2 linked regions of the Homo sapiens genome follow. The protein of the gene in region 1 interacts with the protein of each later gene in a biochemical or structural test. Each region holds a gene or a part of one and is shown on either strand. Other genes may lie near its edges.

The links.
Region 2: the proteins of NUP62 (region 1) and NCAPG form a complex in vitro, tested with the Homo sapiens proteins (one study listed by IntAct).

Annotation. Positions count from the first base shown.
Region 1 is NC_000019.10:49,919,505-49,923,004, reverse strand, and holds part of NUP62 (nuclear pore glycoprotein p62), read left to right. Parts: intron 1-3,500. UniProt on the Homo sapiens protein: Essential component of the nuclear pore complex. The N-terminal is probably involved in nucleocytoplasmic transport.
Region 2 is NC_000004.12:17,841,979-17,845,365, forward strand, and holds the end of NCAPG (condensin complex subunit 3), read left to right. Parts: exon of another isoform or gene 1-331; coding exon 332-401; exon of another isoform or gene 402-1,323; coding exon 1,324-1,447; 3' UTR 1,448-2,887; downstream 2,888-3,387. UniProt on the Homo sapiens protein: Regulatory subunit of the condensin complex, a complex required for conversion of interphase chromatin into mitotic-like condense chromosomes.

The sequences.
Region 1 (3,500 bases):
GGTCTGGGACAAGATACTGTACCCCCCGACCTGTGGTCACCTCATCAGTAAAATGGGCACAATCATAGAACTACCTTGGGGCAGTGTGGAGGGGCAGGGGGTTGACATGGGAAGAGGCCTGGACCGGTGAACTGCTGACCACCTTGGGCCCTGTGTCAGGCCCAGAGGGAGGGGTGGCTCCCAGAAGCACCTGGGCCCCTGAAAGGCACCGGGGCCGCAGCAACACTGGCAGCGCTGGTGGTGCAAAGCTGCTGGTTTCACGGGAGAAGCTGGAAATCCAGTTTTTTTTTTTTCTGTGAGATCCAAGTTTTAAAGGTAGGCAAGTAATTCAGAAAAACCTGGAAAACCCCAGCAAACCACCAGTGTGGACAGGACTCAGGCTGCTGGCCCTCTGTGACTTCCCCTCCCCACAGCTGTCATCCTCTCTGTCCACAGCAGAGAGCAAAAGGAACCCAGCCCTCATTCCAAGAGTCTCCGAGGATTGAGGCTGGTCCCCTCTGTGCTGGACTTTACAAGCAGTGAGACGGAGTAGGGCTTCATTCCGACACAGCCCGGTCCCATGTGAAGGAGGGGAGGACAGTGTTTCTGGGGAGCAGAGGAGGAGGCCTAAAGAATCCTTCCTGAGGTTCAGGATGCCTGCTGGAAGTGGGGCTGGTGTCTTATTACTCTCTTCCTAATCCCCATGCCCCCAGCCAGAGGCCACCAGGAGCACATTGCTCATTGCGGCAGGAAGACTGTCCCCCACAGGGACTCGCAGGGCACCTCAATAAGGAGGCGTTTGGGCTAACTTGAGGAGTTGGGCTGTGTCAGGGGCAAGCCCATGACTCGCATCTATTTGACCTAGAGCCTGAGAAGCAAAGGGAGCTAGTGCCGCCGGGGTTAGTTGAGAAACAGCCAGCAGCTCTGAGTCAGGAGGGGTGTTTGGTCGTTTCTGTGGTTTGGACATCATGTTGTCTGTGTTGAGGCGTGATTCAGGAGTGGGCTTGTTGTCTTGGTCCCTCGTGGTCGTGGTGGCCTGGCCTGGGGCCCTAGGGCCCTGCCGTCGGGGCTGCTTTCTCGCAGCAAATGCACTCATCCTGCCAAGATGGAAGGGAGGTGAGAGCCACCGCTGTGTCCAGAGGAGGCAGCTCCTGCATTCGTCTGGCCCAGGATATGTGGTTCCTACAGGGTTGCTTGGGCACGGAGGAAAGTACCCGGGCTTGAGCCCAGCCAGCACTCATAGGATGGATGGTCATGGTCGGAGCTGCGGGGAGAGGCAGAGGCGGGGAACCATGGTGGGAGGGCCTCACGGGACCCCTAGGCTCCCTAGGTGCCCCCTCAATGGGCAGAGGGGTACCCCCCATGGAGAGTTTTGAGGTCAGCGGCCATCAGAGCGCCAGGCCTTAGCCCAGTTTGATGCAGACTCCTTTGCCCTCTTCTTCCTGACCTACCACAGAGCAGGAACGTATGGGGGTTGGCGAGCAGCGGACGCCCCTCTCTTCCCTGCAGGCGTCTCAGGCCATCGTCTGCAGCTGGGGCGGGCGGATCATCCTGAATTGGATTTGAGAGTGAAGCCCAGGCTGGTCTGGAAGGTCATGGAGATGGCCCAGGAAGTCTCTGGAGAATGGGAAGGGGGACTGGATGAGGCAGGGGACGGTGATGGTGGTGGCAGTGGGGAGCAAAAAAAGACCATGTTTTGGAGAGGCTCGGTGCGGTTAGGAGCTCAGCTGTGGGGCCAGACACCTGGGCCAGCCCTTACTGGTTGTGGGACTTTACGCAGGTGACTGAAGTCCTCTCCCCTTTCTCAGTTTGCTCATTTATAAATGGGAGCCATGATAGTTTCGCTTCGTCACATTGCTGGGGGAAAGTTAAGTGAGTGAGAACAGGTGAAGCCCTGGAAACAGCCCAGCGCGTGAGAAATGCCATGAAATGTGGGTGTGGAGATGTCCGCCGAGGCAGGAAGGGGCTGTGTTTGCTTCCAGTTCTCATAATGAAAGCCACCCTGCCCCCATCTTCTGGCTGCCTTCACCTGGTTCCCAGAGAAACCTCCATAGCAACCGTCTCCACCACAGCCCGGCCTGGGCCCTTCCCTCCTTCCCCCACCAACATCACTGCCTCTCCCCGGGGAAGCTGATGTTGACAAGAAGAGGGGCTGCGGATGGGGCACAGGTGTGCGCCGTTCCTCCCCCGCCACACACGCCTGTCCGCTGCTCTCAGAGTCCCTCAGCCCTGATGCCTCAGTCCCTCTCCAGGCCTTGATGTCCTGTGCCTGCACCGCCAACCAGAGCGTTTCAGCTCTAGGCTCTTCCCCAGCCTGTTCTCAACCAGCATTACCGGCCACCCCAAGGAAGGCATGGGCCTGCCCTTAGAAACTCTGCCCGAGCCGTTGCCCTCGGGGTAAAGTCAGCTCTGAGCCTGACGCCTATCCGCCTCCACAGCCTCATGGAGGCCTCTCAACCCCTTCCCAGCACCCCCTGGTTGGTTGGTTGGTCGGTTGGTTGGTTGAGTGGCTTTATTGAGATACTGTATAATCCATATCCATTTATCAGTGTCCAACTTAGTGGCTTTAGTACGTTGACAGAGTTGTGCAGCCATCACCACAGTCAATTTTAGAACATTTTCATCACGCTAAAAAGAAACTCCTAGGCCGGGCATGGTGGCTCACGCCTGTAATCCCAGCACCTTGGGAGACCGAGGTGGGCGGATCTCAAGGTCGAGAGATTCATACCATCCTGGCCAACATGGCGAAACCCCGTCTCTACTAAAAATACAAAAGTTAGCTGGGTGTGGTGGCACGCGCCTGTAGTCCCAGCTACTTGGGAGGCTGAGGCAGGAGAATAGCTTGAACCCGGGAGGCAGAGGTTGCGATGAGCTGAGATCACGCCACTGCACTCCAGCCTGATGACAGAGTGAGACTCCGTCTCAAAAAAAAAAAATTAGCTGGTGTGGTGGCACACATGTGTAATCCCAGCTATTAGGGAGGCTGAGGTGGGAGGCCCACTGGAGCCCGGGAGGTTGAGGCTATGAGCGTGATTGCACCACTGCACTCCAGCCTGGGAGACAGAGTGAGACCTTGTCTTAGAAAAAAAAAAATTTTTTTTTAATGCAGTAGGTAGAGGGGAAAAAACTTTCAATACAAGAGTAAGAAATAAAAGTTATTGGCCAAAAAGGAAGAAGCCTTGGCACCAGAGTATTCCTCAAATCTCTTCCAGTCCTTTTATATTAAGAGCAAGCGGTGGTTCTAGAATCTTCCTTAAAATCTCTCTCTGGCTGTTTCCTAACTTTTCCATGGTTGTCTTAGCTGATTCGTTTTTCCTGTGGGGAAAATTGCTGTTGGTCCTGCGACCAGAGCTCCTTTGGTAGCTTCTGGGCCTGGGGAGTGGGAAGGAGAAAGTAGCTGCTAATTAGCCGTCAGGTGACTTCAGGGGAAAGCAGGAGAGAAGGTTGAAAATCAGTGAATCCACAAATCATTTAGCTACTGCCTTGAGGCCATCCTGTGTAGCAAGTGGCAGAGGCAGGAT
Region 2 (3,387 bases), on another chromosome or scaffold:
AATAATAGAGGTACTTCATTATAACACATTTTTCATATACTGTCCTCAAATACATTGAACTAAAATTTGCCTTCTTTTAACTTGCTTGAAATTTCCTTATTTTCCCTTACTCATTATTAGTGCTTACAAAATAAATTAAGTTTTAATCTTGCTTGGGTTCCTTTTTCTGTGGCAGTGATAACTGGTACCAAGATGGCTAGAACAAGTAGGAGATACATGTGTTGAAAGGATTGTTGTGTTGAAGACAAAGGATTTAGTTAGCCTAGAAACTAGATTAAAAACAAAAAGCAACTGATAATAAATCCTGATAATGAATTATACTATCTTCAAGGACAGAGAAAAGTGACAGTTTCAGCTAGGACGAACAGGAGGTGTCAGACTGCTGAAGCCGACTCTGAAAGGTATGTCATGCATGTCTAGAATATATGGAGGCCTATCTTCACTTTTTATTTCTACAAGTAGAAAAAAACTAATTTTCTTGCGAATGAGAGAGAATATATAACAAGATAGTGAAAACTATAAATAGCTGTCTTAGGTATATAGTCTAAAATTCCATCATCAAGAGCATTTGACTTCTTACGGCGTGTTTGCTTTTGCCTATTAGCTGGCATGGTCTTTAGTACTATCTTTAATATGTTGTTTCAATTTTTAATTACATGATGTGACTCCTCTTTGATCTTCAGTTAGCAAACTCTTGATTTTGATAATATTTGGGTTCTCTACACTTACATACTGATAGAATAATTCTGTCTATAATTTGGGTATATTGTGTGGTAGAGTGTTTTATTTTTGGCTTCTGTCAGTCAAGCCACTGTTAGAGCTGAAAGTTGGTAGCTGTCTTGTATTCATTTGCAAAATTGTATTGTGTGTATTTTCAGTACATAGTTTTACACTGTTGATTAAATTTGTCTTTTTTGGGGGGAAACTTGTTTTTTACTATGTTTTTGGAATTTATTGCTTAAATCAAGAGAGAGAACTTAATTTTTTTGTCACTTCTTGAGTTTCAAAGAAATCTCTTTTGGACAGTTATGGTCCTCGTTTAATTACAAGCTTCATTACAAGTTTGTGGCTTTTTTTCCTGTATAACACCAGGTTCTGTTATAGTATATAAAATCATTAGCTAGATTTTCCCTGATTCACTTTGCTAGATAGCCAAGTCAGTGTTTTTTTGACATTGAGATTTTAGTTTTAAGCTAAGTCAATGGAATCAGGCTATCAATTAAACACTGATAGAATGTGAGTCAGAAACAAAAAAGTTTTATTTATAAATAAACTGGTTTTAAAGCTTGTATCTAAATTCGTGTATTTTCAACATCTATTTAGTGATCATGAAGTTCCAGAACCAGAATCAGAAATGAAGATGAGACTACCAAGACGAGCCAAAACCGCAGCACTAGAAAAAAGTAAACTTAACCTTGCCCAATTTCTCAATGAAGATCTAAGTTAGGAAAGACGATGGAGGTGGAATCCTTTAAGATTATGTCCAGTTATTTGCTTTAATAAAGAAGAAGTTACCCTTGTCAAAATCAGAACAAACCTGATGTCTTTCTGAAGATTTTCTGCTGTGCGCTTCCACGTTACTTTGGCCTGTATTAAAGCAGTAGAGCAGCATCAGTTATTATAGTCCAGAAAAAGTGTGCATCAGTCAGTCACACAGATTTATCACAATCTGAGGTGGGCCTAGGAATCTCATTTTTAAATAGTCTCTCCAAGTGATTCTTATGAACTCTTTATGTTTAAAATCATGTCATTATGGAAAACTTACAAGTGTAACTAGCTAGTAGCTTGCATTTGAGAAGCTTATGACTTAGATGGGCAGAATCAACAAAGATGAAACCGCCTGAGGACACATTTAACAAGTAACATTTCTAGGGAAAATGAAGGAAGTACCACAAACTGGCTAGAAAGGAGCTTATCAATCACCAGTGAGGAAGACCAGTATAACGTTCAACAACAGTTATTTTGACAAAAACTTATTTTGTGATTCCTACAGTGAAAACATTTTTGGTGATATCTGCCTGGGAAATCTCTCTTCCTAAAGTATTTGTATATGGGAGTCCTTGTTTGTGAATGTTTCCTGGATTAGGGAGGTGTCAACATAAATGTATTATTAACCATGAAGCTGCTCGCTATATTTTTGGCATAACAAAATAATATTTATTTACTGTGGATAATAATTCTAGTGGGAATATAATGTGACAGGAACTTCTCTTTATATACGCTACCAATTTATGAGCACTATTCACTGTCAATTTCATTTCTTGTCTTTTGAAATTGACACTTGGCCTGACTTACGAAACTTGTACTATATGAAATTGGTCCTCTTTTCTGCAATACCCAACGAAACACCTTTTCTCTTTATTATTCAGAAATGTCCTAACATGGATCTGTTTGTTTTAATAATTGTGCTTTTTTTAGGCTTATCATCTACTAGAGGCCATTTACTTAAGGTGAAATTTTAAGATGGAGCTAAAGTAAGATCACTGGTTTTTAGAACCAAATTGCTATACATATGTGCCTCATAGAACTTATAAAAGGAGTCAAAGTTTCAAAGCAAGATAGTTATTAAGCAAAAGGAAAAATGGTAATGATAGAAAGTCAGTTAAAAATAGATGATTGTTCTTCATTCTGTTTGTTGGCTCTGTGTTCTCCTGTGCTTCAGATTCCTTATGTGTTGTTGTTTTAAAGACAATTTGCAGGGGGTTGGGAGAAGGACTGAAAAGGTACATTAAGTGTGCTGTAAGGAAAAGTCTTAGAAACATAATAAGCTAAAATCCCATTCACACATGGCCAGGCTATCCAAAAAGAAAGGAGCCATGTTCTCATGTGGTTTACCATACCAAAGCTTGCTTTCTCTGGCATGGGAAAAATAAATTTAAGCACCAAACCTTTAGTATTCTGAGTATTCAGTTTTTAGACATAGTCATGTAGCCATTGCTGAAACTGTGCTTTGCACTATTAAAGGTAGGGAATGTCCTGCTTTTAAAAGTCATCCCTTTAACTTTAAAATAAAAGGCTAAGGTACAATAAAACAGATGTAAATCCATTTACCATTTTTCATTCAAAACTGGTAACTTACAGAAACCACATAGTATTTTTCTCTATCAAGAGGCACAGATTTGCTGAACAGTAAACATGCAATTGTGCCATTGCTCTTAAAGCCCACAGACTTAGATTTAAAATACAGAGAAAGAACTGATAAGCTCACATTTTCCTGTGAATGGGAAACATGCTACTTGACAAAAAGCTATGATCAACTTTTTTTCTTCTGTACATATATAACGTTGAAGGAGATTTACTTCTAAGAGATACCTTTGCCTTTTCTTTCACCAATTTGCTTCGAGGTAGTTGGTATCCACCTGTTTTACAACTGCTCATGGGTCAGGT